7 linked regions of the Homo sapiens genome follow. The protein of the gene in region 1 purifies or fractionates together with the protein of each later gene. This does not show direct contact. Each region holds a gene or a part of one and is shown in the gene's direction. Other genes may lie near its edges.

The links.
Region 2: the proteins of SLC12A6 (region 1) and ACSL3 purify together in Homo sapiens (affinity purification with mass spectrometry; 2 studies listed by BioGRID and IntAct, with this or other methods). This does not show direct contact.
Region 3: the proteins of SLC12A6 (region 1) and FDFT1 purify together in Homo sapiens (affinity purification with mass spectrometry; 2 studies listed by BioGRID and IntAct, with this or other methods). This does not show direct contact.
Region 4: the proteins of SLC12A6 (region 1) and CEP152 purify together in Homo sapiens (affinity purification with mass spectrometry; one large-scale study listed by BioGRID and IntAct). This does not show direct contact.
Region 5: the proteins of SLC12A6 (region 1) and STK39 purify together in Homo sapiens (affinity purification with mass spectrometry; 3 studies listed by BioGRID and IntAct, with this or other methods). This does not show direct contact.
Region 6: the proteins of SLC12A6 (region 1) and ERLIN1 purify together in Homo sapiens (affinity purification with mass spectrometry, with the first as the bait; one large-scale study listed by BioGRID). This does not show direct contact.
Region 7: the proteins of SLC12A6 (region 1) and ZDHHC8 fractionate together in Homo sapiens (co-fractionation; one large-scale study listed by BioGRID). This does not show direct contact.

What each region holds. Positions count from the first base shown.
Region 1 is NC_000015.10:34,250,357-34,254,487, reverse strand, and holds part of SLC12A6 (solute carrier family 12 member 6), read left to right. Parts: coding exon 1-140; intron 141-2,103; coding exon 2,104-2,318; intron 2,319-3,430; coding exon 3,431-3,589; intron 3,590-3,758; coding exon 3,759-3,857; intron 3,858-4,131.
Region 2 is NC_000002.12:222,867,104-222,871,234, forward strand, and holds part of ACSL3 (fatty acid CoA ligase Acsl3), read left to right. Parts: intron 1-4,131. UniProt on the Homo sapiens protein: Acyl-CoA synthetases (ACSL) activates long-chain fatty acids for both synthesis of cellular lipids, and degradation via beta-oxidation.
Region 3 is NC_000008.11:11,822,778-11,826,908, forward strand, and holds part of FDFT1 (squalene synthase), read left to right. Parts: intron 1-3,246; coding exon 3,247-3,438; intron 3,439-4,131. UniProt on the Homo sapiens protein: Catalyzes the condensation of 2 farnesyl pyrophosphate (FPP) moieties to form squalene. Proceeds in two distinct steps.
Region 4 is NC_000015.10:48,755,165-48,759,295, reverse strand, and holds part of CEP152 (centrosomal protein of 152 kDa), read left to right. Parts: intron 1-2,742; coding exon 2,743-3,393; intron 3,394-4,131. UniProt on the Homo sapiens protein: Necessary for centrosome duplication; the function also seems to involve CEP63, CDK5RAP2 and WDR62 through a stepwise assembled complex at the centrosome that recruits CDK2 required for centriole duplication.
Region 5 is NC_000002.12:168,139,088-168,143,218, reverse strand, and holds part of STK39 (STE20/SPS1-related proline-alanine-rich protein kinase), read left to right. Parts: intron 1-2,460; coding exon 2,461-2,570; intron 2,571-2,828; coding exon 2,829-2,930; intron 2,931-4,131. UniProt on the Homo sapiens protein: Effector serine/threonine-protein kinase component of the WNK-SPAK/OSR1 kinase cascade, which is involved in various processes, such as ion transport, response to hypertonic stress and blood pressure.
Region 6 is NC_000010.11:100,182,797-100,187,477, reverse strand, and holds the start of ERLIN1 (erlin-1), read left to right. Parts: upstream 1-1,448; 5' UTR 1,449-1,851; coding exon 1,852-1,964; intron 1,965-3,640; coding exon 3,641-3,722; intron 3,723-4,681. UniProt on the Homo sapiens protein: Component of the ERLIN1/ERLIN2 complex which mediates the endoplasmic reticulum-associated degradation (ERAD) of inositol 1,4,5-trisphosphate receptors (IP3Rs).
Region 7 is NC_000022.11:20,134,422-20,138,552, forward strand, and holds part of ZDHHC8 (palmitoyltransferase ZDHHC8), read left to right. Parts: intron 1-4,131. UniProt on the Homo sapiens protein: Palmitoyltransferase that catalyzes the addition of palmitate onto various protein substrates and therefore functions in several unrelated biological processes.

The sequences.
Region 1 (4,131 bases):
GTCCTTATGGTATTAGTGGTATTTATCGGCGTACGCTATGTGAACAAGTTTGCCTCACTTTTCCTGGCCTGTGTCATTGTGTCCATCTTGGCCATCTATGCTGGAGCCATCAAGTCTTCTTTTGCTCCTCCACACTTCCCGTACGTGTCTGTCTCTCTGCCTAGCCATCCTTATTGGGTAGTAATTGAAAATATCTGGTGGTGTGATAATTTTAAGTCAGAATTTCATAGAGTCTCTCTGAGATTTTCCCTCTCAGATAAGCCCAGTTAGACTTCCTTCCTCATCTAGGCAGGAAGCCTACCAGCAAACTATGTCCCGTTCATCCTCTTTCTTATGTCCTAAGCATAGAACTAGTAGCTGTAACCATCATTTAGGTTCAGATATTAGATTTTTTTCTCCCTGATAATTGTACATAATCTTTTTTTATTATACACATTTTGAACTATTCATAAAGGGCTTTGCAGACAGTGTAGTTATTGCCAGCAACCTTTATAAGGCCCACCTTGGCCTCCCGACGTGCTGGGATTACAGGCGTGAGCCACTGCGCCCAGCCTAGGTCAGGGCTTTTATCCATTACCCAAATAATGTACTTTGTACCCATTAAGTACTCTCTCATCATTCACCACCTCCTTCAACTCCCTAGTGCGAATACTTTAAAGTATGTTTTTTGAAGTAGTAATGGATTTGTGCACATCTGTGACTCACAGGCTCACTTTTCCCTTTGACTAGTGGCATAGGGACTAGCTGGCACTCAGTGTTATTTGTAGTCTTGTTACAGAATTATCTTGAAGAGTCATCTGGATTATCTGAGGATCAAACTCATCGGTTCTATGTTGATTTAACCAGATTACAGAAAAAAAGATTTTTCAAGACAAAAAGACAGTTCCAGTAGGTTTAATGACTTACCTCAAAGTTAATTAATGGCAGAGCAAGAAGATGAACTGTGATTTCCTGACTCCCCATTCAGTATTTCTTCTATGCTATGCTGCATGATGGCAGAAGTAGATTCCATCTTAAACTTTTAATCTGCTTATCTAGGGACTGTAATACAGCTGAAGGTCCTTTTTAGGGGCATAAAATTTCTAAAGGTGACATTCTGGTTATATCTCAATTTGGGAAATTCCATTTTGTCTCAGGTTCACCTTTGGGGCTTCTCCTCTTTTTTGATTAGTACACGGTCATAATGCATGGTATTTTCTTTGAGATATTCCAGCAAAACAAGACAAAAAATCTAGAATAATACATGAAACAAGACTGGGAAATGTTGAGAGTTGTTGAAGCTGAGTAATAGGTACATGGTTCATAATAATGTATTCAATCATTTTGCAAATTTTAGAAGTCCCTTTGTTGGACCTGAGAGGTATTTTAACTATGGATGTATTATTCCTTTGTTTATATTTGTGTCTCTGGGTTAAAGAAAAAAGTAAAACCAGCAGGTTAATATTTATGTTATCCTTACCGTCACTCCCACTGAGTCTAGGCTTAAATTCAAAAACAGTTTTCTCTTAGGCCATAGAGGGATCTGCCTTTTAATTCTGACCAAGCTGTTTTCCTTGCAACAGTAGCCAGAAGATTCAACCTTTAGCATAACATTTTCAAGGTGTTTGTTATGAATGTTAGGCTTTTCTAGGCCAAAAAAAGAGGAGTGCTTTTTACTTTATAAGAACAACAAAAGGACTTCAGTATTCTTTTAGACCTAACAATTTTAGCCAAAAATTTTGGAAGATGAGTCAGCATAATGTCTTCAGACAGTTCTTCAATTTGACTTCCTTCACTGCCACCACCTATGACCTTGGACAGATAACTGTATTTCCCTAACCTTCAATTAACTCCCTGTCTTCCTAAACTTCAGTGCCTCCATCCACAACATAGAAATTCTAATACATTGTGAGGTTGCTGTAAGTATTAAATTGGCAGAAAATGTAAGTCACCATTCACAGTGTTAAAATAAATTATAAATAAATAAACATTAGTTCCTTTCCCACCCATAACAGTAGAAGCTCTTAAAGATGGGGTTCTTGTTTCCTTTACTAACCTGTTTCCTTTTTTTTTAATGTACTTTTTTTCCTTACTTGATCTTTCTCCCTATTTCTTTTCACTTAGGGTCTGCATGCTGGGTAACCGCACCCTTTCATCAAGACACATTGACGTTTGCTCTAAGACCAAGGAAATTAACAACATGACAGTCCCATCAAAGTTATGGGGATTCTTCTGTAACTCGAGTCAATTTTTCAATGCCACCTGTGATGAATACTTTGTTCACAATAACGTCACTTCAATCCAGGGCATTCCTGGATTGGCTAGTGGTATAATTACAGGTAAGTTAGGGAGTTATTGGACAAGTTTTTTCCTATTTTCTGGGGAAAATAGGCCTTGTCATCTTAGATTCCTCTACTGTCCATAAAGATTCACTGCCATGGTGCTAATTCCCTTCTTAAGCACACCACACAGCTCTTAATTCACCATATTTCTGCTTTTCCATTAGTAAAGCTGTCCTTATTCAGTACTCCTTTACAGAGTGATGTCTGCTAAAATTCACCTCCATTTCAGAGCAGAGTTGAGCAAATCACTTTCTAACCTTACGGTAAAATATTCCGTGTATTCTTGTAAAATTGCCAATGTTCTTCCTGCACTGACAGAATAGACCTGTTTTAATGTCCACATCCACATGTATCTTCCTAACTTAGCTAAATTCCTGAAACATTCCTTAAGTGTCTTCTATTATAAATGTTTGGTCTATAAATTTCTTTGCACATAAGTAAGTTTACATTAAGGTGTTAGAAACAGCACTGATGACAAATAATAATGGGATTTGTGGGGCATTTAGTTTTAGTCTGTTTAACTTTTACTAATTTGCATTAGTAAAGTTAAACTATATTTGCATGTACCAAATCATTTTGTCAAATTATATTTAAATTAGATAAGAAAGAACATTATGTTTAGCTGGGCGCCGTGGGTTATGCCTGTAATCCTAGCACTTTGGGAGGCCTAGGTGGGAGGATCATGAGGTCAGGAGATCGAGACCATCCTGGCTAACATGGTGAAACCTCGTCTCTACTAAAAATATAAAAAATTAGCTGGGCGTGGTGGCAGGCGCCTGTAGTCCCAGCTACTCAGGATGCTGAGGCAGGAGAATGGCGTGAACCTGGGAGGCAGAGCTTGCAGTGAGCCAAGATTGTGCCACTGCACTCCAGCCTGGTGACAGAGTAAAACTCTGTCTCAAAAAACAAACAAACAAAAAAAAAACTATGTTTTTATTTATGTGTGTTTTATTGTGCAATGTGTGTGTATACATGTGCTCATGTAGAAGCAAACACACCTTTAGAAACTGTATAAATGAGGAGCCTGATTTTGAATGTTTGGGTAGAAAATTAATTATCTTTTTTTTTTCATACTGCTGCTGCTTAAATTCCCATTTTTCCCACTGCAGAGAATCTTTGGAGTAATTACCTACCCAAGGGAGAGATCATCGAAAAGCCTTCAGCCAAATCTTCTGATGTCTTAGGCAGCTTAAACCATGAATATGTTCTTGTTGACATCACCACCTCCTTCACGCTTCTGGTGGGAATCTTCTTTCCCTCTGTTACAGGTAAACACATAGGCTGTTGTATATTTTAGAAGCTGTCAGACCCACGGAGTGATTTTTCTCAGGAGGCAGAATTCTCAGGGTTCCTAGATTTGCTTCTACTCTTTGCTATCAGTATCAATATCAAAGTGTCCAAGAAGTTAACTTGGTTTTTTCCCCCTTATCTCTAAAGGTATCATGGCTGGATCAAACAGATCTGGAGATCTGAAAGATGCTCAGAAGTCTATTCCGATTGGTACTATCCTTGCCATCCTGACCACCTCCTTTGTTTGTATCCTTTTTATGGATCCAGTCTGAGTCTTAGTCATAGGAGCATCCAGTAGAACTAGATGATCAGTATTTTTATCCTGGTAACAAAGATACCTGCTTTCTATCACTTCACTTCTTGCCAGATTATCTGCCTACCTCATATAGAAAATTCAAAAAAGAATTTATAGGAGTATTTAGCAGCTCATTTTACTGACAGAAGAAAGTGTCTACTGAGTGTCTACTTTCTATCTCATGTTAGAGGGTAAACAACAGTTTCCTTGACTCTCAATATGGTA
Region 2 (4,131 bases), on another chromosome or scaffold:
ATTGCAGATGTGAACCACCATGCCCGGCCTAGAATTTTCTTTTTGGACTTGAACATAATTCCTCAGGATGCTTTCCCCTTTAACCTTACTTCGCAGGAATTGTTATTGACTTTTTAGATTGGAATATAAAGGAATTTGGGATCCCATAGTCTGCTAATTCCATTTTCTTTTCCTGTCTTTTAACTAAAATATTGACGCACTTTCTGTATGTTTGAAAAATATTTCATAAAATTTAATCCACTTAAAGAAACCCACTCCTTTCCCCCAAATCTTACAGCTAACCACTGCTCTGAATTTGGTGTTTATTATTCCTATGTATTTCTGTACAGCTTTATTACACATGTGTGTTTCCTTAGACAGTGTATAGTATTGTTTTGTGTATTCTTAAACTTTATATAGATGGTACTGCATGTATTCTTGTTCAGCATACTGTTTATTTTATCCCCACTCAAAATCACTTAGCAGTGTGGTTTCATGAATTGAGTTTCAACTCAATTCATCAGTGTGGGTTCATGTAGATTTAGGTCATTTATTTTTACTGTGACAAGTTAGTACATTTTAGGTCTATACCATATTTATTTCCCCTTTGCTCTCTTGATAGACTTTTAGGCTGTTTCCATTTTTTTTGTTATTACAAACATTATTACCGTTAAGTATTATTGAACACAAGTCTTTGTTTTAATTTTTGACACTGTAGTTAACCTGTGCTCCTTTTTCTCTGTTCTTCACATTTTTGTCTCGGCCTTCCTCTAATCGTTTCATTATTTGAGCTAAGGTACCATTCTTTGTCCATTATACTTAACAGTACAAAACTGTAATGGGCACTTTTCCTCGAAGGCTCTTTTTAGTAATCTTTACTTTAGTTAACTTTCTTTGCTTTTTTTTTTTTTAAATAAAAATATCTTAAAATATAGAAATATCTTGAACATATTTTACAGATATATATTATTTTACTTGTAATTCCATGCATGACTGCAGGGATAATTCACGTGTACCCTTTCTCTTGGGAAACGTTTCTGTGTTGATGTACATTTGATTTAGCTAATTCTGTATTTTAGTGTTTGTTTCCTTTAAATATTTTCCTCTAAATGTAGTGCACTTTTTTCATTGCAGTTTGGTGGGTAGGAACATGAGCTCAGAGTTAAGATTGCTTGGATTGGAATCCGGGCTCTACTTTTTAGCTGTGTGTCTTTGGGCAGCGTATTTAATTTCTATGTCTCAATTTCTTCATCTGTAAAATGGAGATAATAGAAATCTACCCGTAGATTGTTGTGAGATTCAAATGAGGTGTCTGGCATAGTCATTACTCAATACATATTAGCTATTTTTATTAGTTTTATTTTTTGTTAGAGTATGCAGTATTTTCTAAGCCTACTCAGTTTGTGGTGTTGCCTTCTTTTTTGAAGCAGCATTTTAACACAGACATCTATGCCTCAAGGAAATGTGTGATGTTTTATAACTGTTAGTGGAGATTGGGAAGAGATACTGTAAACTGTAGCAAACCATAAGTTGAGGTACATTAACTAGATTGTTATATTTTAATATCAATAATTTAGGATTTGGTTGGGCATGGTGGCTTATGCCTTTAATCCCAGCACTTTGGGAGGCCGAGGAGGGCGGATCACCTGAGGTCAGGAGTTTGAGTCCAGCCTGGCCAATGTGGCATGAGTCCAGCCTGGCCAATGTGGTGAAATCCCGTCTCTACTAAAAATACAAATTAGCTGGGTGTGGTAGCGGGTGCCTGTAATCCCAGCTACTTGGGAGGCTGAGACAGGAGAATTGCTTGAACCTGGGAAGTGGAGGTTGCAGTGAGCCAAGATCATGCCATTGCACTCCAGCCTGGGCAACAGAGGGAGACGCTGTCTCAAAAAAAAAAAAAAAATTAGGATTTATCGTGTTTCAATTTTTTTGAAATACGTATAAAGCACTTTGAAAGTGAGTTGACATGGTGAAATTCTCAGATAATTACCAAGGGTCTACTCTTGTTAGTTTTAAATACCTTTTGTAATATGACCCTGATAATGATTCAGATGGTGTTTCTAAGTATATTATCCTATGTCATCAACCTTGTGTTGTTCAGTGGAGAAGGAACCATTGCCATCCATGTATGTAAAGCTTCATAGGTAAATTTGAGCGAGTGACTTAACCTTTCTCAGCCTTCCATTTCAATTTCTGTAACATAAAGATTTCAATTCTTACCTCACAAGGTTATCATGACTTATGTTAGTTGCTTCCTTCATCTCTCTGGCTCCCCTGTCTTCTCTTGTAACTTCCTTTTTTTCTGTTTTCCCTATGTATATTCTTTCTTCCTCTTTATCCCTTCTCTGCCCTTCACAAGTAGTTTTTTGGTAAATGGTAACAAGACATTCTGAACCAGTGTGTGAGTGAACCCATTATATTAATAAAAATACACATTATTTAAAGGGGACTAGGAAATGTTAATTCTGTAAGGACAAGAGGATTTAGGCCATATGAAGTTACAGAGGAGATGCTGTAAATGTTAAATGAGCAGTATAAAGGACAGAGAGGTCATGTTTTGCCACAGTAGCCAGGGAATGGTCAGCTGAGCAAAATGAGACTAATGTTAGATTTGAAGAAAGATTTGTGAGGAAGGTATTCACATAGGATGTCCAGTGGGCAGTGGAGTTTGGAAGATTGGCAAATAAAACTGAGCCATCAACTGCTTGGGAGGACTCAGGAAGCTGTGAGGATAAATCACATCCCATGGGGAAGAAAGGCACATGGACTTGGAGGACAAAAGCAATTAAGACCTAGCGTAACCTCTTTATTTATTGATTAAACTCTGAAAGTAGTTGTTGAATGAATTAAACCTTCTAGGAATAGAAAGGGAGAACTAGCAGCTAGCAAATGGAGAGAATTGAGTGGCTCTGAGTTGTTGCAGGAGGAGCTTTGAAGGTCTGGCCCGAGTTGTTTGTAACCCTGCCGTTGAGACTGGTGGTGTGGCATTGTCTGTGCCATTTAGTCTGACTGGACTTCTGGTTTTTTTTTTTTTTTGGTCTGTAATCCTTTCTTGCTTTTGGGGGATGGAGAGGGATCTGCTTCATCACTGTTCTTTTTACCTCCTTTTCCCCCTCCTTTACTTGACTCAGGATTTTTGTTACCTGTGCCATATTTATTTCTTAGGTGTCTTTGACTTTATCAGTTAGCTTTGTGCATTTCCCCATGTATTCATTGATGTGTTTACTACCTGGAATTTAATGGGGTGTTTGCATGAGTCTCTTCCTCTTTTGACATCTCAATAAGCAAGATTCTCATGGAAACCATCTCAGAGGCAGTGGGCAGTAAATAGATGGAGTGAAAGATGAGGCAGAACTGTTTCTCTGCATTCTATATTGAGATGTACAATTGTTTAACAAATAATTACAAAAGAAAATGAGTGCCATGAGAGAGTGCCCTAAGGGGTCAGCGGATGGGTAGAGAAGTTCAGGCTGGGGCTAGGGCCAGTGGAGGTTTGGGTATCAGAGAATGCCTAATCAATTTAGATGCTAAGAGATAACTAGGCTTTGAATGTATGCAGAAGAATAAAGGACATTCCAGGTAGAGCTAACAGGGCAAAATGAGCAAAGGCAGAGAAGACAGGTAAGGGAGACAAAGAAGTGGATGGAATTGATTTGTTTGTAGTGTGCGAAGTAGAGAGTTGGAAGGTGAGAGTTGAAAAGTAAGCTGACTTCAAGTTGTGGAGAGTCTTAAGTACTTGGCAGACGAGTTTGGAATTGTTTTTTATTCCTTCTTTTTTTTCCCCTTTTGGACAATGAGGAGGGAATTGAGATTCTTGAAGAGAGGATTGATGTGAAATACGGGTTATAAGGGAGTGGCAACGTCACACTGGCAACATGAATGAAGGATGCATTGATGGAGGAGGGGGAGAGGGGACTAGAGACAGAGGAATAGTTAAGGATACAGTTGAATTCTGCCAGGTGACAGGAGTAAGGACCTGAACTGATAAAGTAACACGTGAGAAAGGGCAGGAGGCAGGGGATGACAGAGGAAGCAGAACCATCGGGACTTGGCAACTGACTGGATCTTTGCAGGGCAAGGGAAGGGAACATTACCAAATGCTTTTTAAGTTTTGAGTAAGTTCTAGAAATGGGAAGAGTCAGCTTTCCATTT
Region 3 (4,131 bases), on another chromosome or scaffold:
TGCACTCCAACGTGGGTGACAGAGCAAGACACCATCTGAAAGAAAATAAAGTTGAAGTTAAAACTTCTGGCCAAGAACCAGCACTGGTTATGATAGTAACTCATTTTCTGTTGTGCAGATTTATTCAGGAAACTTAATTTTAGGTTGTTGAATAGAAGTTTTGATCAGATAAAATTGAATTAAAAAAAATTTTTTTTGAGACAGGGTCTTGCTGTTATCCAGGCTGGTGTGTAGTGGTGTGATCACGGCTCCCCGCAGCCTCAACCTCCTGGGCTCAGGTGATCCTCCCACCTCAGCCTACCGAGTAGCTGTAACTACAGTGCATGACACCATACCAGGCTCATTTTTGTACATTTTTTGTAGAGAGAGGGTTTTGCCATGTTGCCCAGGCTAGTCTCAAACTCCTGGCATCAAACAGTCCTCCCACTCTGGCCTCTCAAATGTTGGGATTACAGGCATGACCAGCCAATTATTTCAAGGAGTTATTTTTTTTCTTCTACTTTGGGGGAAGATGAATTATATAAGTCTCCATTTTAGGAGTATTTCTACCAAAAGAACTATTATCTTCAAATATATTTTTGGATAGTACTATAGATATACTAATTTTTTTTTAAATTTCTAGTAATTCTTTTGAAGATTTTGTATAGCTGTCCAAAGCCAATTTCTGTCTACCTAATTTCAGCAAGATTTCACTCTTTTCATGTTACTTTTGTCCCAGAACAAATTTCAAGTGCTTTCTCTTCACCTGTGCATTCTTCCCCCTGATTAGTCTCTGGCTTTGTATTACTTTCAGTCAGAGACGACTTTTTTTTTTTGAGACAGGGTCTCACTCTGTCACCCAGACTGGAATGCAGTGGCACAGACAAGGCAGCCTTGACCTTCTGGGCTCAAGCAATCTTCCTTGCCCTCAGCCTCCTGAGTAACTGGGACCACAGGCACGTTGCCACCATGCCTGGCTAATTTATTTTAATTTTTATTATTTTTGAGACAGGGTATTGCTCTGTCACCCAGGCTGGAGTGTAGTGGCATGATCAAGGCTCACTGCAGCCTTCACCTCCTGTGCTCAAGCAGTCCTCTCACCTCAGCCTCCCCATTAGCTGGGACTATAGGTCCACACCACTACACCAGGCTAATTTTTGTAATTTTTTGGTAGAGACAGGGTTTCATCGTGTTGCCTAGGCTGGTCTTGAGCTCCTGGGCTCAAGCGATTCACCTGCCTTAGCCTCCCAGGTGTGAGCCACTACACTCAGCCTTTTAAAATTTTTTACAGAGATGAGGTCTTGCTTTGTTGGCCAGGCTGGTCTAAAACTCTTGGGCTCAAGCAGTCCCCTCTCCACAGCCTCCCAAAATTCCGGGATTACAGGCGTGAACTTCGGTCATTTCCTAACTTTTACCCTTCCTAATGACACTCCAGAGCTTACCTTCTTTACTTTTGCTTCTTAAGTTAACTAATAGACAATTATTGTATGTGGATATTGCATTAAGTTGTCTTAGGATACCCTTTTCAGAGGAGGACAGCTTTTGACAAATTGCTGTCGCGGAAAAAAAAAGTATTTGGCAATTAAGAGTTGCATTTACTGAAATCTCTGTTGAGAGAGGGGAAGTTACGTTGTCTCTAAAAGAAAAACTAAAAAGAAAAGGGGAAGTTTTAGCAAAGTTGTTAAAGCCTGACACTTAAGTCATACTACCTAGTTTTGAACTCTTAGCCCCTGCCACAGACACGGCAGCCCCTTGAACCTTCCTGGGTTCAAGCGAGCCTCCTACTTCAGCCCCCTGAGTAACTGGGACCACTGGCCTGTGTCACTGTGCCTGGCTAATTTTTTTTTTTTCTCACATGGGCAATGTTGGGCAAGTTAAATCGACTTCTTTGTGCCTCAGTTTCCTCATCTGAAATGGAGATCATACTGCTATGTACCTGATACAATGTTTGTGAGGATTGAATGTGCAGAGTTCTTTTTTTCTGTTGTTGTTGTTTTGAGACGGAGTCTCACTCTGTCGCCCAGGCTGGAGTGCAGTGGCGCGATCTCGGCTCCCTGCAAGCTCCACCTCCTGGGTTCACGCCATTCTCCTGCCTTAGCCTTCTGAGTAGCTGGGACTACAGGCACCCGCCACCAGGCCAGCTAATTTTTTTGTATTTTTAGTAGAGACGGGGTTTCACCGTCTTAGCCAGGATGGTCTTGATCTCCTGATCTCGTGATCCGCCCGTCTCAGCTTCCCAAAGTGCTGGGATTACAGGCATGAGCCATCGTGCCCGGCTGAATGTGCAGAGTTCTTAAAACCGTGTCAAGAACATAAAATAGTTATTTGTTCTTTCATATAATGATGATTTTGAGGGCCTGCGGATCTTGACATGTTATCAGATTGGTCAAAAAAAGATTAAACCATAGTTGGTATTGTCCTAGTTCCTGTTACCAGAATATTCCATCTTTCATCGTTGCCTTCTCTCATAGTTTTATGTATCAAAAAGTTTATTGTAAAGCTAGGGCGGGCACGGTGTCTTGGGCTGGTAATCCCAGCACTTTGGGAGGCCAAGGCTGGCAGATCAGTTGAGGTCAGGAGTTCGAGACCAGCGTGGCCAACATGGTGAAACCCCGTCTCTACTAAAAATAAAAAATTAGCTGGATGTGGTGGTGGGTGCTTTAATTCCAGCTACTCAGGAAGCTGAGGCAGGAGAATCACTTGAACCCAAGAGGCAGAGGTTGCAGTGAGTTGAGATTGTGCCAGTGCACTCCAGCCCAGGGGACAAAGTGAGACTTGATCTCAAAAAAAAAAAAAAAAAAAAAGTTATTGTAAAGCTAGACACGGTGGTATTTGCCTACAATCCCAGCTGTTCGGGAAGCTGAGGCAGAAAGATTGCTTGGGTCCAGTAGTTTGAGTCTAACGTGGGCAAATATATGAGACTCCATCTCAAAAAAAAAATAAAAAATAAAAATAAAAAAATGTTTACTAGTTTTTTTCAGTAGCCTTTTATTATAGTAGCAGTACATGTGTATTGTAGAAATTTGGAAAATACAAGTGAAAAATAAAAACATCAAATTCCCGTCAGCCAGAGACTGCTATGAAATGTTTTGAGCACATCCTTCTTGAATGTTTTTTAAATCCTGGTATGTATATTTGTATTTTAAAATCAAAATGCATTCTTACCCATTCTCTTTTGAACCTGCTTTTTTGTAGCTAATGATCTCTAGTGTGTCCATTTCAGTAAAAATTCCATTATTAAAGTGCTTTAAAAATCGTCTCTTACAGTACTGCCACTATGTTGCTGGGCTGGTCGGAATTGGCCTTTCCCGTCTTTTCTCAGCCTCAGAGTTTGAAGACCCCTTAGTTGGTGAAGATACAGAACGTGCCAACTCTATGGGCCTGTTTTTGCAGAAAACAAACATCATCCGTGACTATCTGGAAGACCAGCAAGGAGGAAGAGAGTTCTGGCCTCAAGAGGTAACAGATTCAGGGTATTTTGGGGGAAAATAACTTTAGACATTCTCTGAAAAATCCTTTAACTCTTGTGGTTGCGGGTGACAGAAAAACAAGTCAGGCCTCCCCCAGGCAGCATAAGGGGATGTGGAAAATAGGATAGCTTGACATGAGTTTGCTTCAGGTAGACTGGCTGACTCCCAGGATTCACACCACGTAATCAGTATATTCAAGCCTTGCTGTCCTTGATTTCTTTCAGACGGTCTTTCTCCAAGTGGTGGATATGGTAACAACCCATGTGCACTAGCTTAACAAAAAGTTCTTAGGAATGGCTTTGTTCGGCCTGGCGCAGTGGCTCATGCCTGTAATCCCAACAGTTTGAGAGGCCAAGGTGGGCGGATCACCTGAGGCCAGGAGTTCGAGACCAGCCTGGCCAACATCGTGAAACCCCGTGTTTACTAAAAAATACAAAAATTAGCCGGGCGTGGTGGCAAGGGCTTGTAATCCCAGCTACCTGGGAGGCTGAGGCAGGAGAATCGCTTGAACCCAGGAAGCAGAGATTGCGGTGAGCTCAGATTGTGCCACTGCACTCCAGCCTGGGCGACAGAGTGAGACTCCCTCTCAAAAGAAGAGGAAGGGCTTGGTTCTTCTGCTCAGCCCTGAATCAGTTACTGTTGCTACACAGCTGAGTTCTCTGGCCTCGCCTGGATTACGTCT
Region 4 (4,131 bases), about 15 Mb from region 1:
GGAGTTAAACATTTTTAAATAAAAGTGTAGAAAAATTAAAAGAAAATTGAAGATTTCAGATCTGTACCATAATAACAACTCAGTTTTGAGGCAACATATCCAATAGCAAAGATAAAGTAATAGGTTGAAATATGTTTTGTTTTTGTAGTAAAAAGTAAAGGGAATAATAAAAATAAGAAAAATGGATAACACATGATAAATTATAATCTATATTTTTTAGTATGTCTGAAATATTTTAAAAGGAAATTTAAGAGGGAGAGAGAGAAGAAACAATATGATTGTGAGGATATGTGTCTCAGAGCTCAGAAGTCAAGTAGAATAGTAAAGTTGAGTACAATGTAGAAAATAAAACAGGCCAAGAGATCTTTTCATAAGAACATAGAAGGCTGTATGTTTGTGAAAGCAGACATATAGAAATGAGAGAAAAGTGTTTTTGTTGCTTCTCAAACTTCAGCAGGCCTGAGAATCACTTGCAGGGTTTGTTAAAGCATAGCTATCTGGGCTTTCCTCCTAGAGATAATGATATAGTAGGTCTGGAGGGTGTCCTGGGAATTTGCCTTTTTTTTTTTTTTTTTTTGAGATGGAGTCTTGCTGTGTTTCCCAGGCTGGAGTGCAGTGGCACAATCTCAGCTCACTGCAACCTCTACCTCCTGGGTTCAAGCGATTCTCCTGCCTCTGCCTCCCAAGTAGCTGGGATTATAGGTGCCCGCTACCTCGCCTGGCTAATTTTTGTATTTTTAGTAGAGATGAGGTTTCACCATATTGGCCAGGCTGGTCTTGAACTCCTGATCTCAGATGATCTTGCCCACCTCGGCCTCCCAAAGTGCTGGGATTACAGGTGGGAGTCACCGCACCTGGCTGGAATTTGCATTTCTAACAGGCTCCCAGCTGGTCTTTGGACTACACTTGGATGTAAGTAGCACTATTCCAGATAATTATATCAGCCACAAAAAATAATGTCAACATGTTGTGCATCCTTCCTCCAAACCAAAAGAGGTCCAGAAAGGGCCGGTTCCATAGCATTGGCTATAGAGTTATTTTAAGATTAGAGTGATTAGTTGAGATCTGTGACAGTGTGAAGACAGTTTCTAGAATTCAGAAGTAGTTAAGTTGGTTCAGTGGTTCTCAAACTTTGCTGCACATTGGAATAACTTGAGGATCTTTAAAAAATACTGTTGCCTGGCCCCTACCCTTAAACTTTGTTTTGTATGGGCCCTGGCCTGGGCATCAGGATTTTTAAAAGCTGCTCAGGTGATTCTAATGTGCAGCAAAGTTTGGGAAGCACTGAGTTGATGAATGCTGTCAAATTCTCTTTGTAAAACTTCACATGAGAAAATGCACATTTTGGTAAGGTTGGGCAGGTTATAAAAATTCTGTGGAATCCATCACCTCTATCCGAGTCACCTGGGAATGACTTCCAGGCATCCATTGCAACATGACCTGTTTTCTCTAAAAACACTATTTAAACATGTTTCAAATCACTACTGAATTATTCTGCTGGTAGCAAAGGAATTTTGCAGTGAATTCTTTTGTAAAGCTCACCTTAGATAGTGGGTTCCTTTAGCAGAAAATTTATTTAGTAGGTACTCTATCCCATCATCCCAGCCATATATATAGTATTGATCAATGGTAACCACCATTGTCTAGGCCAAGCCTTTGGAGATGCCCAGTTCTGTCTTTTGACACTAGTGCGTCCTTGTGCCTTCTTTGAATTCAGTTAGGAATTCAGTCAGGAATATTAAAAGTGAAAGGGACTCAAGGCCATTATCTACTCTACTCCTTTATATAGGTGAAGATGTTAGTGCCAAAGAGATTAAGTGACTTTTGCAAGGCCATGCATCCAAAAGTAATAACTACATAAGATTTATTGAGTCCTTATCATCTGCCAGGCTCTGGGCTAAGTACTTTAAATGGATTATGTCCTTATGTCATTTAATCCTAAAGGATGCTATCAAATTGGCATTGTAATTATCCCCATTTTATAGATGAGGAAATTGAGGCTCAAAGAAGTTGAGGAATGGGCCTTTAGTTCTTCAGCTGGTAAGTTAATTCCAGCAGTTTGTCTCCAGATTCTGTTCTGTTAAGCATCTGTGCTAGGCTTCCTCTGCAAATTGGTGTCAGGATTGGAGCTTAGGTTTTTTGATTTCGCTATTACTTTTTAGTTATGTACTACCTGTTTTTTTCTGTGATCCACTAGTTCTATTATTCTGTCATACAAACAAATTAGACTAATGAAAAATGACTTTTTCTGTTTGGTATTGTCCTTTAATGAACTGTTCTAGCCACTAAAAGTGCATTAAAATACAGTTACACTTATCAGCAAGTAATTATGCAGGTGTGTGCTATATTCCTAAGTAATAGTAAAAAATCCTTATGAGTCCGCTTTTGCTTTAGGTAAAAGATACTTAATTTGTTGGGGGCACAGATAAAATTTGAGATTGTATCTGTATTAAGAAAAGTAATATGAAATTTTTTCTCACATTAGTTTTGGCTAATTATATAATTATATGTGTGAGTGTTTATGTGTCTATACATACATATAAACATATTTATGTATATATTTTGACCAATTTTAGTGTAAGTATAGTTTTTAGAATAATGTCTTATCTAAAATCATGTTTCCTTTTAATTTTGATTTTACATTTCCTAGCTTCAGAGGTTAACCAAAATAGTTACCTTAATTTTTTTGCGAAGGAGGAGAATCATAAAGACTTTCAAAATGCATGTTGTTATGTTCTTTAGATATCATTTGCTGTTTCTGAAGCTAAAGAGAAATGGAAGAGTGAGCTTGAAAATATGAGGAAAAATATACTTCCTGGAAAGGAATTGGAAGAGAAGATTCATTCTCTTCAGAAGGAACTTGAGTTAAAGAACGAAGAAGTCCCTGTGGTCATCAGGGCTGAGTTAGCTAAGGCTCGGAGTGAATGGAACAAAGAAAAGCAAGAAGAAATCCACAGAATCCAAGAACAAAATGAGCAAGATTACCGGCAATTTTTAGATGATCACCGAAATAAAATTAATGAGGTGCTTGCGGCAGCTAAAGAAGACTTTATGAAACAAAAAACTGAACTACTTCTTCAGAAGGAGACAGAATTACAAACTTGTCTAGACCAGAGTCGTAGAGAATGGACTATGCAGGAAGCCAAGCGGATCCAACTGGAAATCTATCAGTATGAGGAAGACATCCTGACTGTACTTGGGGTTCTTTTAAGTGATACCCAAAAGGAGCACATCAGTGATTCTGAGGACAAGCAGCTTTTGGAAATCATGTCGACTTGTTCTTCAAAATGGATGTCTGTGCAATATTTTGAAAAACTAAAGGGCTGCATACAGAAAGCATTTCAAGATACACTTCCTCTGCTTGTAGAAAACGCTGACCCAGAATGGAAAAAGGTATGTTCCTGAGAGTGAGAGAAGGTATTGAACACCAAGAATGATTATAGAAGTTGTATATAGTGTTTTTTCCTTTTTTCCTTTTAAATTTTAGTAGATGTAAGTCTTATGTTTTTGTCAGTGGTTTAAAAAAGTTTCTGTAGCGAAATCCAAAGGTTTGCATGTTTCGTTGCCAAAAAACTTTACTACTTCATAGTGTCACAAATACAAGACAAGATTTTAGCCTCTAAATATCTTTTTCCTAAAGAATATTTAGGACAAATACCTAATGCATGCGGGGCCTAAAACCTAGATGACAGGTTGATAGGTGCAGCAAACCACCATGGCACATGTATACCTATGTAGTAAACCTTCACGTTCAGCACATGTATCCCAGAACTTAAAATAAAATAAAGAATATATGCTGTTCTTTCTAAGGGCCTGAGATTTCAGAAACTGAAAATTTTTTTTTCAAAATTCTGTTTTCTGGGCCTGACCACTTCATGAAATATGCATAATAAGAGTTTCTTAAAAGCTTGTAAAGAGTTTGGAAGCCTATTTATTGCCCTCAATAAATTTATGTCTCATTTAGGCAAAAAAATGCCAACCAAGTACAAAGGTATTGATATAGAAACAAGCAAATAAATACGACTCACTCGCATAAAACTCTGAAGCCCAGTTTCTGGATGTACTATATATGTGCATATAGAATTAATTATATTCTTTTAGTTATATAAGTACTCTCTGAGACCAGCTTTT
Region 5 (4,131 bases), on another chromosome or scaffold:
ACAGCATTATTTGTTGTTGTTGTTGTTTTTCTTAAAGCAGCATTTACCCATATCCTCCAGTTATTCCTGGAGGCAGGGAGATGGACTGGCTAACTTTATGTGTAGCCTTTGATTCTGTGTTTCTAGAGAAATGTCTGTGGTTTTGTACCCAAGTGAATCTGGCTGCATTCCCTTTGGCTGTATAGATGTACCCCTTAGGAAACAAGGACAGCTTTTCACTGTTACAGTTCTGCCACCTTGTTCTAACTGTCATATGCAAGCTATCTCAATATAATATACCAATTTTTTGTGTATATAACATAAGCACACTATGTACTTTGCTCAAAATGTTCTGTTACTGAGTACATATAATCTGTATACACATCAGCCGTACATAGGAGCAAATTGTATATTTCTTCTGTAGTCATAGAGGGAGTAGATATTAGGATTGTTGTTTTCTGCTCCTGAAATTTTTGTTCTGAGTTTTAAAGACATTTAGCCATCTGTTTATGACTTTAAAGTGAGTGTTCAAAGTGGAGGCTCTGAATGTATGTATCATTACAGATATATTGAAAGGGTATTGTCAATAATAAATGGCTACTATACATCTTTTTCGGCTGTTTTCTAACTTTTTAAAATGTGTAATGTAAGCAGGTAGTATTTTTAAGGAAGTGGAAATATATCTAATGTTAACTATGGATTTTTACCTGGATTATGTCTTTTAGGAAGAGACTTTAGGGTGCAGAGTTGCTTCAATTGCATTTAAAATAATCAATTTTTCCTTAAAGCAGCTTTTACCTGTATCCTTAATTTATAGATGATATGTATTTATTTCATATTATATTATAAAATCATTTTAATAAAAATGAAATGTTGGATTCATCGTTGAACTTCTTTTTAGAAATATAAATTAAGTTGAAATTAGTAGCTTTCAAAGTTTTATCATATATATTTTTTCCAGCAGATATAGTAGATGCTTACAAATATTTTAATTCACCTAACTCTTCTCTAAGAGAATGAATTGTATCTTCTCCCACCCACAGGAGACTGACTGGTTCCAGAGATTTCTTTTCACAAGACTTCAGTTTTCTGGCTGCAGTATAAGAATTAAAAGGGCTTTAGAGTTGGAAACATATATGCATATTAAGTTATTTAGCAGTTTAAACATATATACTTTTATTCAATATGAACATGAGAGTAGCAGTTGGAACAAAGACTCCATTTGTCAATTTTCATTCCTTTTATTTGTAGTTGAAATCCTGTTGGGAGTATGAGTAAATTTAAATATAAATAAAATGCAACATTCAATGTATTTCTACTCAGGAAACCAGTTACAATGTTATTAAGTTACAATTGCATAAACTAACCTTATAGGCCTACAGCAAATGCTAATACATTTTGACCTTGGTTTGTACTTGAGGGTGTTTTTTGGTAATTGCTGTCACCCTGACAGCCAACAAGGGGGACTCGCAAAGGAAAAGCGTATGAGAGCGATTTGCAGGGGCTCAGACTGCACATTGCGCTGTGGTGTTTTGATGTGTTGCCTACCTGTTTTTATTACTACCCACCAGCTCGCTATCAAGTAGTCCTTGACCTGGCTATCATTGATAGGTACACTAGTCTTGAGTAATTGGTACTTTAACTTATCAACTACTTTTAACCACTGTGTAAAAATGAAAGCAAGAATAGTACGTTAATAATTGCCAGGCATTCCCTTCTGTACTGTACATACAAATAGAATTTTTACACATGTGCCTGTATGTATATATAGGTTGAGTATCCCTAAATCAGAATATGTGAAATCTCAAATGTTCCAAATTCTGAAACTTTTTGAATGTGAGGTGACATTCAAAGGAAATGTTCACGGGTACATTTCAGATTTCTGGTTTTCGAATGAGGGGTACTTAACTAGTTTAGTATATAATGCAAGTATTTTAAAATGAGAAAAAATCCAAAATCTAAAACATTTCTGGTCGCAAGCATTTCCGGATGCTCAATCTGTACAGTATGCCTAATTAATTCATCTTCTTATAAAATTAACTTCTATATATAATGAGTTAAAGTTAAGAAAAATATTATTTACTTGTACAATCCATTGCCTCTGTACTTATGAAAATTGTCCAGAAAATCAGTCTTTGCTGACTAAGCTTTTTTGCATATGGACATACTCGGGCATGTTGGCTTTATATATCTTATCTTTATATACCTCAGCTAAAAGCTAACACCCTTTATATTTAATTTGGTATGCTAAGCTTTTGGACCGGCAGGCTTGTGGCCCATTACCAGCGATGGTATTCTCCAAGGTGTAGGGGATAGCAGAGGGCAGGTCTTCCTTTTTTTTCCTGAGAGAGCACCGTAGACATGTTTGGAATAGTTCATCACCACTGTAAAGCTCACAAAGAAGAGACATGCTCAAAAAATCACAATTTATAAGCAATAATGTCTTACATAAAATAAAGGTGATTTTTTTTTCCCTTTCAGATTTTGGGGTAAGTGCGTTCCTAGCAACAGGGGGTGATGTTACCCGAAATAAAGTAAGAAAAACATTCGTTGGCACCCCATGTTGGATGGCTCCTGAAGTCATGGAACAGGTAAAAAAACAAAAAAAGTGACTTTTTGATGGACATAGTACAATCGTACAGATCATTAATATGCTAACATTTCATTTGTATCTAGCATTTTAGTAGAATGCATAATGTAACTAAGATTTAATTCTCAATTGCTAGCTAATTAGCAAACTAACGTGAAAGTTATACATCAACAGCTGTGGATTTCTGACATGACATGGACTTGATGATGTGTAACATGCCTGCTGTATGATTGTGTTTTTTTCCTGCTTTCTTTCTTAGGTGAGAGGCTATGACTTCAAGGCTGACATGTGGAGTTTTGGAATAACTGCCATTGAATTAGCAACAGGAGCAGCGCCTTATCACAAATATCCTCCCATGAAAGTAATTACAATTGGAAATACTACATCGGGGTTGAAATGTGATTGGACGGAATCTGTTTTCTAATTCTCTTCAACATCTTCATTCTTCTCTTAGACCCGAGGAGAATTAATGGAGGAACGCAGCCAAGTTGAACATTGTCTGATTTTCTCAGTGGACAGAATAGGACAAAAGTAGCATAATTCCCAGCTTTGAAGCTTGCTTTATAGTCTCAGCACAGAGTTAAGAAAATAATGTTATCAGATTGGTTGATGGAGGTTGATAGCTATGACAAATGCTGGTCATTACTCTTTTGATAGCAGAACAACGCCAGGTTCCCAGAGAATATCTCAAAATAGATTATAGTGATGTCATCTCTGCAAATGGGTTTCCCAGATTTTCAGAGCTTTTTTTTTTCTTTCTTTTTAAGTGGACTACAACATTTTTACCCCTGCTCTTATAGTGTAATGTTGGCAACTGATCTGATATAAGTGAGCCACAGTGTTTTTAGGATGCTATTTTCACGTTTCTGCTCTTCTTTTAACTGGTTTATACCTCATTATTTCTCTTAGTTCTGAGATAGTGGTATCAGGGCTTATTTACCCAACTGGATTTTGTTTTGAGGCTGAAATAGTTTAGTGAAATTATAATGCTATTTTACATAGAGTATGGTCTATGATTGTTTCATGGTTACTGGAAAAATTTGGGAGGATTTATTTTAAAAACCCAAGAATAAAAAGTGAGTTTTACTGATTAAAAGAAGTAGTATACTCATATTGTAGAAAGTTTGGATGTGCAACTCAGACTAAAGAAGAAAAACAATCATCCGTAATCTCATCAACCAGACAATCTCTACTAAGGTTTCAGTGTAATTCATTTTATTGTTTTTATATATATATATATAAATTTTTTTTAACATAGTTAGGATTTTAGTGTATTTGTGTGTGTGTGGGTACATATACCGGATTTTGCTAGCAGAAAATTTAAAATTGAAGCGTAAACAATTGAAGTGACCTCTTGGAGAAAAAGCACTGAAGTAATGCTGAAGGATTTTTTCTTTTATTCAGTTTTTCTTTCTTCATTTTCTTTCTTTTGCCTCTTCTCAGTGTTTCCCACCTGAATTCAAAGTCGCACTTGCTTGTCCCAGCCTGACGTCCTCTAGGACTTTTCTTCAGAGTTCCCAGTCTCCCGCTTTCTCCTGTGGGCTATTATCCTCCACAAACAA
Region 6 (4,681 bases), on another chromosome or scaffold:
AATAGCTAAGCTCTGCAAATATCATTTATTTGGAACAGATAAGGTCCCAGACATTCCTAGATAATAAAAATCAAATGAATGATACAGGTAAGTGTATTTATTGAAGGGTGTGGGTAGAGTGGTCTGGGAAGTCTTGCTTTAATGAAGACGGATTGATTCTATTTACCTCTTCTTACTTCCACTACTAAGTAACCCTGGGCCTGCAGTTTCCTAACCACTTGACTTCCTTGCCAACAGTCTGTCTCCACTTTCAGCCGTTTTATAGATTCATTGGCCCTAAAGCACTGCTTTCCCATACTTCCCTACCCAAGAGGGCAGGGGTCCCCAAGCCCTGGGCCGCGGACCGGAACCAGACAGTGGCCTGTTAGGAACCAAGCCGGATAGCAGGAGGTGAGCGGCGGGCGAGTGAGCATTATCGCCTTGAGCTCTGCCTGCTGTCAGATTAGCGAGTGGCATCAGATTCTCATAGGCACGCGAACCCTATTGTGAACTGCACATGTGAGGTTTGCCGGCTCCCTGTGAGAATCTAATGCCTGATGATCTGAAGTGGAACAGTTTCATCCCCAACCCACACACACCCCCACCCCGTCCGCTGGGTTAGAGGACTTTACAACCCTAGTCCACCTTGTCCAGTTATAGTTCCACCTCTAGCCTTTCAAGGCTTAAACCATTAATGTCCTTAATTTCTCTTGTATTCATCTATCTCCCAACTATACCTTTTTCCTTCCCTTTTTTATTTTTGGCAATATGTGCCCATGGTTTTTTAATTTAAAACGAACAGAATATGTAGTGACGCCTACCATAGCACTCCTTCCCATCACACAAGCCTTCAAGGAAACTGAAGTACTTACTTTGGTCTCCCTGGAGGATTCCCTCCGCCTCCCGCCCCATGTGCTTAGCAATTCTGTTCCTGTAGTCTGGATGGCCTTCATAAAGCCCTCACTGGACCAGCATTCTGGCACATAATAGGAACACTTAAAAAACGAGAGAATGATGCCGTTATATCTAATATCTTCCTCTTCTGAACTTTCACAGCACTTTATTTGCAACAAGTTTAGTTGCTCCTGAAGGGCAGGATCTCTGCCGGAAGCAAGTGCGTGCCACACAGTGGGGCTCCGCATACACTGCAAAAGGACAAATAAACCGAACAGCTACCGTTTGAGAGTGAGCGAGTGGGTTCTCTGCACAAGAACAAACCAACCAGTCCCTTGTCCGAAAGGGCGTCTCCTTTTCTCTGCTTCGCTGCTCACTCCAGACTGCGGGCTGTCCTCTTCCGAAGCAGTTAACCAGCAGTGTACAGAAAGCGACTTGCCTCCAAAGGAGCCTGCGCGGCCCGCGGCTAGGAGAATTTTGTCCCATGCGCTCCCCGTCTCACTAGCCGCGGGCCGGGGCTACGCCGTGTGCGTCCCCGCGCAGCCGCAGTGCTGGGCGAGTGGGCGGGGCCGGCTGTTGGCGGCGGTTGGCTCGGCGCGGGAGTCGGCTGCACGTGCGGGCGGGGGCGATGCGTCACTGATCGGTGAGGCGCGGCCGAGGGGTCGGCTTTCCTCGCGAGCCTGCGGCTGGGCTTCTTCTCAGTTAGTGCCTTCCACCCGGGAGCGACCCTTGGGAGAGGGAGTTTCAGGAAGCTCACCGAGCAGGGGCGGCCCACTGGCCTCCGGGGGCGGAGGAGTTGGCAAGGGGTCAGCGGGCTCAGCCAGAAGGGAAGAATGAGGGGACAGGGGTACTGGACTCCCCGGCTCAGCCTGCGAGAGAGCGCCAAGTTTCCGGAGGGAGAGGGTAGAAACTGGAGGGGGTGGACCTGTCACTCACGGGACTGAGGGTCCTTTTCTCCCGCTCCCAGGAGGAACGAGAATGAATATGACTCAAGCCCGGGTTCTGGTGGCTGCAGTGGTGGGGTTGGTGGCTGTCCTGCTCTACGCCTCCATCCACAAGATTGAGGAGGGCCATCTGGCTGTGTACTACAGGTGAGCGGCATGTGCAGTCAGTTAGGGCTCTAGAGCAGATTAAAAGGGTACTCCAGAGTGGAGTCTGGGAAGTTGTTCCCTCTGCAACGTTCGGGGGCGCATGTCCCATCTCTAGGGAGAGCACGGGGGTCGAAGCGGGCTTTTGCGGAGCACCCTCCAGATGTTGGACAGTTTTAGTGCTATGTTCGTTTTGTTGCAGAGATTAAGTCTCCCTACGGTTATTCCTATACACAGCAAACTCAATTATTTGTAGAAAAATGAAGAAGGAAGAAAGGAAGTAGTCACTCTACCTCTAACTGAAGAGATGGATAAATTATAGTTCGTTCAACTGTACAGGCTTTAGTTTGCCGCTGTAGATGCTGTATGTTTATGGTTGTTTCTTAGACTTTTTCATTTAAAAGCTTCCAGTGTCTGGTTACGTCTTGTAACACCATGATGACTGTGATGGTGCTTATGTCCCTGGACCTCCAGGGACATAAGCACAACACTGATGGGCCATGCTCCTCCCTCCTTACTGTTGCTGTTCAAGTTGGGGACAGGAGTGGTGTGGGAGCTGTTGCTCTCTTGTTGAGCTCGCTTAGCTTTTCCTTCAGCCTAATTACCACAAGTTCCTTTTGATACAGACTAGTAAGAGAGGCCAGTTTGTGGAGAAATTGGGATAATGGTGTATTCAAAAAGAGCGTCAACTTTTTGCTTGTTTCCACTATCCCTCAAAACTGATATTTCTACTTTCAAATCCATCCTGAATCCTAGAAAAAGAGCAATTTTAATGGTATATCTTAGCAGATGGAGCTCTACATAAGAAATTACAGATTAGTCCAGATTTCCTTCCAGTTTAAAAGCATTGTCTTTCTGACAGTAAAACCAGAGAAAGGACATTTCAAGGAATGACTCAAAGAATTAGTAATGAACCTCAAACAGTTCATCTTTCCTTGTTATTATGACCTTGCAAATGTGTTTATATTTTCAAGACCGGTAGCTAAGTTCTATGAATTTACAAGGTGCAAAATAGGACTTTGTTTTCTTTGCTCCCCAAATGCCTCCTTTTTATAATTTCCAGGGCTTGCTTTCATAGTTTTCACATTCCAGGATTTGGTTAACAAGCCCTTATGCTATTTATTTGTATAGTCTTGTCACCCTTCATCTTTTCATGCTAATTTTTTGTTTTTATATAGAAATTTTATGTTCCCAGTATTTTAATTACCTTGTAGATAGATCGAAAGAATTATAAGCCTCAGAAATTTTCTCTTTACTTCAAAGTTTGCATTGTCTTTTTTTCAACCTGGTGATTAAATGTATTATATATTTTGATTTGGCTCTTGTTATGTACTATTAATGTACCTCTACTGAAAGCCATTAGAATTTTTTAAACAAATATTTCTCAGAAGGTTAAAGACCGAGGAGAATCCTTTGAACCTTAGAGCAGTGCTGGAGACCCAGAGGTACGGTTGGTTGAGCTTATGAAACAAGGTGTAACATTGGCAGTTTAATTTGATCTTTTTCCCTTTTTAGGTGTGGAGGTATTTTAAGCAGTTGTTCATTATGAGCAATTCATATTAGTGAGGCTTTAGTAGGTCAGCAGCATGAGCAAGAGTGAGTATTTATTATAGCATTTTAGATTTGGAAAGATAATTTTTCTTTTTATAATTTTGTCAAATTGAAACATCTTTTTGCAGGGGAGGAGCTTTACTAACTAGCCCCAGTGGACCAGGCTATCATATCATGTTGCCTTTCATTACTACGTTCAGATCTGTGCAGGTGAGTGATTCCTAGGGGAAGCCTCCATACCAGATAGACAGGCATGACAGGAGTTACCACACTTGTGGGTGGAGATAGATTTCCTTATTGCTTAAGCAGATGGTGGTATTTACTTAAATGCAGAAGTTAACGTTCAGAGTACAGTTGTTACAACACAAGTTATGATGTTAAACCACCTCACTTACTTGAAATGAATTAAAGGTATGAACCAGGAAGCTTGGAAGGACTGACTTCTACCATCTATATCGTGGTATATAGCAAATTTTCTGTTGCTGCTGTCACAATAAAAGTAAGAATTAGAAACACAACTAGACATACAAACCAGTGATTATGTGGTTTAGAACAGTGTTTAGTTTCCATAGAGGCAGGCTCCTGGGCTACTGTTAACATGGAGGATCAAAATTTTTATACACAGCCTTTCTGCCTCATGTTTTTTTGCCTGGTATATTAAGCACAATTTTATGTGGAACCTTAGTGAATGTTATATTTTGATGGCATCCCGGGATATTTGAAATAAGTGTCTAATCCTCGAAAAGTGTCTTGGCCATGGGAGACAATAAAATAAGTATCTTTCAATGTAACAAGATGACAAAACCAGGATTAGGCTGTGACCACTTTCGCAAGCCCAGTGTGATCATAAATCTTTGGATTCAGAAGTTTGTCTGCCATCTGCTGCTAATTTTTCAGGACTCAGGAAAATTCTGTGTTATTTAATCTTGTAATCTTATGTCTAGGCTTCCTGCTAAGTGAGAGTTTAATTATAAATTCTTAAATCCCCTAGGTTTTCTTCCTGTCCCCTTTTAGATGGCTTAGGGAAAGAATTGTGTCTACTGAAGTGAAATGTATTCTTCCCCTAATCAGACTGATTTCCATATGTTGTTCCATATTTATTTTACCCATTCTTTCCTTAGTTCATGCCATCACTTCTTTATCTGCCATCTCACTCTCCATTCCTTTTC
Region 7 (4,131 bases), on another chromosome or scaffold:
CTGGGTAGGCAGGGGTCCAGGCGGCCCCCTTCTTGGGGCAGGCCACTTGTCTACCCGTTGCCCCACCTCCTGCCCTGTATCTGGTCCAGGCACACAGGAAGGGGAGCAGGTTGCTCTTGTGCCCCGAATCCCTGCCCTTAGTGCCTATACAGGGTTCCCGACTTCACTGTTTGCTCCTCGGACGTTACCAGACAGTGAGTGGCCCCAGCCCCCTCTCTGCACTCAGTAAACATGAGTTGCTGCCGGTGGGGTGGCTTCACCCATGCACCAGGTGGGCAGGAGTTCTGGGTGTCATGTGGTGTGGGGAGCTGGAGGCCTGAGAACCAGGGACCCCTCCCTCAGCCAGATCGCCAAGGGTCTTGGGACCAGCAGGACATTCACACATCTCTCTAGGAGGGTCTGGGCATGGAAGGATGCCCAGTTGTGAAGAGCACCCTCTCAGGATGGGGCACATACAGCAGGGCAGTTTCTCAGAGGCCCTCTTCCTTCAGGAAGCCTTCCTAGGATTTTGTTGTTGTTTGTTTGTTTGAGACAGGGTCTCACTCTGTCACCCAGGCCAGAGTGCAGTGGTGCTACCTCGGCTCACTGCAGTCTCGACCTCCTGGGCGCAAGTGATCATCCCACCTCAGCCTCCTGAGTACCTGGGATGACAGGTGGGCACCCTCACACCTGGCTAATTTATTTATTTTTTGTTTTTTTGTTTTTTTTTAGTAGAGATGGGGTCTCGCTATGTTGCCCAGGCTATTCTCCTGAGCTCAGGTGATCTGCCAGCCTTAGCCTCCCAAAGTGCTGGGATTACATGTGTGATCACTGCTCCCGGCCCCTTCCTATGTTTCTGGGGGTTTTGTATCCCCCTGGGCTTCAGAAGCCCTTTATACCATGGTATAATGCTAGGCTGGGTCAGCTGCTGGCAGAGGGTTCGAAGACCCCTAGGCCAGGCTCCCGACCCTGCCCTGACTTCACTCCAGAGCCACATTGCAGAATGACAGGGACCCTGTGAATGTCCGAGGGCTGGGGCTGCCTGGCAGGCTGCCAGTGCCTGGGGCTGAGCCAGGCTGGCTTATCTCTGTCTGGGGCATCTGGGATGGTGTGGCTGGTCCCTAGATCGTCCTGAGCCCTCTCCTTGCCTGGAGGCCCAGCTCAGGACAGCAGTCAGAACAGGCCCTGGGCCAGACTAGCCTTGGTGGGCCAGGAGGGACTGAACTGCTGACTGGGACCTCATGAGTCTGGGGAACCTGGGAGTGAAAACTCAGTGTGAGCCCCCCTGCTGGGACCCACCGCATGTGGCCTGGGGTATTCCTGGCCCCCGAGCCTCAGTTTCCCCATCTGTCCAGGTGTCTATAGGGATTGGACAGGTAGGTGCAGGTACTTCGAGGCCCAAAGGCCTGGCCTGACAAGGGCGCAGCAGCTTCTGCCCCGCCGGTCCCGAGCGCCCCACGGGCGAGTGCCACTCATACACAAACAGTGCTAATGAAGAACCTGATTTAAATGAAAACGTCTGAGTTAAAATTTTCCATTCCACATTTAGCTGTGGCGGACATTCTGCCCCTAAGCCACCCCTCTTGCTCGGCGGTATCTCCCTGCCAGCCCAGGCGGGACTTGGGGCCTCAGCCCGGGTGGGGCCTATGGTGGTGGTGCATGTCCCTGCCTGTGGCCCTGGAGGAGGGATTGGAACCTCGGGGCTGGGCCCCCTGGACCTGCCCTCCACCCGTAGCTTGGCTGGAGCCAGCCAGGAGGGGCTCAGAGGGACATGGCGGGCCAGACACTCCACCTCCAGCCCAGGCCCAGAGCCTGTCTTTGCCTGGCCCTCCGGCAGGCGAGCCTGGTGTGCACCATCAGGTCTGGGTGGGAGTGGAGCCTCCCCGAGCCTGGACCCAGACTACTGCCTGCTAGGCCCTGCCTGTGGGAATGCGTGTCTTTGAGTGTCCCTGAGCATCCACACATGGCCTCCCCTGTCCCCATGTGTCCTCATGCATCCTTGCATGTCCTTGTGTGTCCTCCCGTGTTCTTGCGCACCCTGAGAGTGCTTGTGTGTCCTCACACTTGCCCTATCCACAGAGGGGCAAAGGGAAGCCCAGAGAGTGGGAGGGCCGTGTCTGAGGCCCAGAGTGAGGGGCAGCCGAGCCGAGGCTGGATAGGGCTGGGTGCAGTGTGAGGAGGCATGTGTCTATGCATGCCTGTGTTCACGCGTGTTCACACATAGGTCTTGGTGGGTGAGTGATGTGCAGGCGTGTCTGCGTTCATGCATGTGCACCAGTGTGTGCACGTGTGCATGTCTGCATGCAAGTGTTCATGCATGTATATGTGTTTTGTATGCAGACATGATTGCATGTGTGCATGTGTGCCTTCTGTGCACCAGAACAGGTTGTCTGTGTGTTTATGTGTGTACATGCCTGTATATTTGTGTGTGTGCACACATACCCATGCACATGTGCCCTGGAGCATGTTTGTGTGTGTGTCCATGTCTTCACACGTGTCTGTAGGTGCCTGCGTGTGCTCCTCATCTTCTCTCCCACTGAGCCCTGAGAGCTCTGGGCCCTGGTGGGTTGGCCTGTGAGCTGGTCCCTGTTAGGCAGGATCTGACCTTGGGGACTACAGAGAGGACAGTTGCCTCACTCTGGAGGACTGGAGGAGTGGGCAGCAGCTCAGGTCCCAGTCAGAGAACCCACAACAAGCCTCCCCAACCCCTGGATTAGGGCCCATATGGGCCCTCACAGGCATGTGGCAGGTACCCGCACTGGGCAGGAGGGACCCGGTCACACTGCAGATTTCCCAAAGTAGCCCCACGGCTGCAAGGCTGCTGTCCAGCCCGCCTGGTGTGGGGGAGTCCAGGCTCAGGGAGGACACAGCAGTACCGCCTGCTTGGGCTGGCAGGGAGCTCAAGTCAGCATGGGGTTCAGGCCCCGCCTGCCTGATGGGCGAACACACCCCCAAGGCCCCCGTTAGGGCCAGGAGGCAGGCTGGCAGCCAGCGCAGGTGCAGAGGGGCCCCGAGGCTTCCATCCTGAGGTCAGCACTGGGAGGACAGAGGCTGCCTCCTTGCAGCCCGAGGGTTGACCAATGGCACTCGCCGCATCCCTTCCCAGAGCAGGCCAGCCCCACGGGCATCATGAGGGCCTGCGTTTGGTTTAATGCTCCGCTGTCAACATCTTGAAATTCTCTGTAATTTTTAAATAAGGGGCCCGCAGTTTCATTTTGCACAGACTATGTAGCCAGCCTTCCCCAGAAGGCTCGTGGAGAGCTCCACAGGCCCTGCCTCTCCCTGGGGGAGCTGCTCACCTGCCTGTGCCCATCTTGTTGGGCCGACCCTGCCTTAGGGGCCTGTGGTCCTGGCTGAATGGCGTTGCATTGGAGGCCAGGCACATGTTTGAGTGCTGCCTGTGTGCCAGGCAGGGCTGGGGAGGGTGGAAGGAAGCCTGGGGGCTGAGCCACTGGGCAGGGACAGGGAGAGCCCTCCCAGCAGAGGGAGGTGTGGCCGCAGCTGTGTCCTCACCCTGGTGTCTACCTCCACGGGCTGGGCCCTGGACAAGAGGAAGGGTAACTTGGGCTCCCAGCCCCGCCGAGGATGGCTGTCGTGGGAAGCGGAGTCTTTAAATAGCCTCTTGCTTTCCACTAAAAATAGTGAAGCTCTGCTGCCGTGGAGGTGGTTGCCGGGGCGGCGGGGCTGGCTCTTGGCCAGGCGGGCGTGGGTGCAGCAGCGTGGCCACGTGCGCTGGAGTGGTAGGCAGCGCGTGGGCCCCATCCACTGCTAGTGGCCATAGAGGTCAGGGCTGCTGTGGGGGATCCCCACTAGCCCCCCGACTATGCAGAGGGCCTGGGTGCAGGGAGGGACGCAAACCCCTGTGTTCCTGTCCCTGCTGCTTGTCACAGCAGCTGTCTCAGGGTGCGCAGGGGAGAGACAAGGAGCCTGAGGCCAGAGGGGCTTCTTGGAAGCTGAGTGGGTGGATTTAGGAACCCGCTGCAGGCCGTGTGGCCCGAGGACCGGCAAGTCTCTTCAGAGGGGACTCGGGCCAGGCCCGTTAAGGGCTGAGGAAGGCGCCTTTCAGGAAGGTGTGTGAGGGCACACCTTATAGGGAAGCTGCAGAGGGCAGCCTGGAGTCCTGGAAAGCTTCCCGGAAGAGGGGGTGGCCTT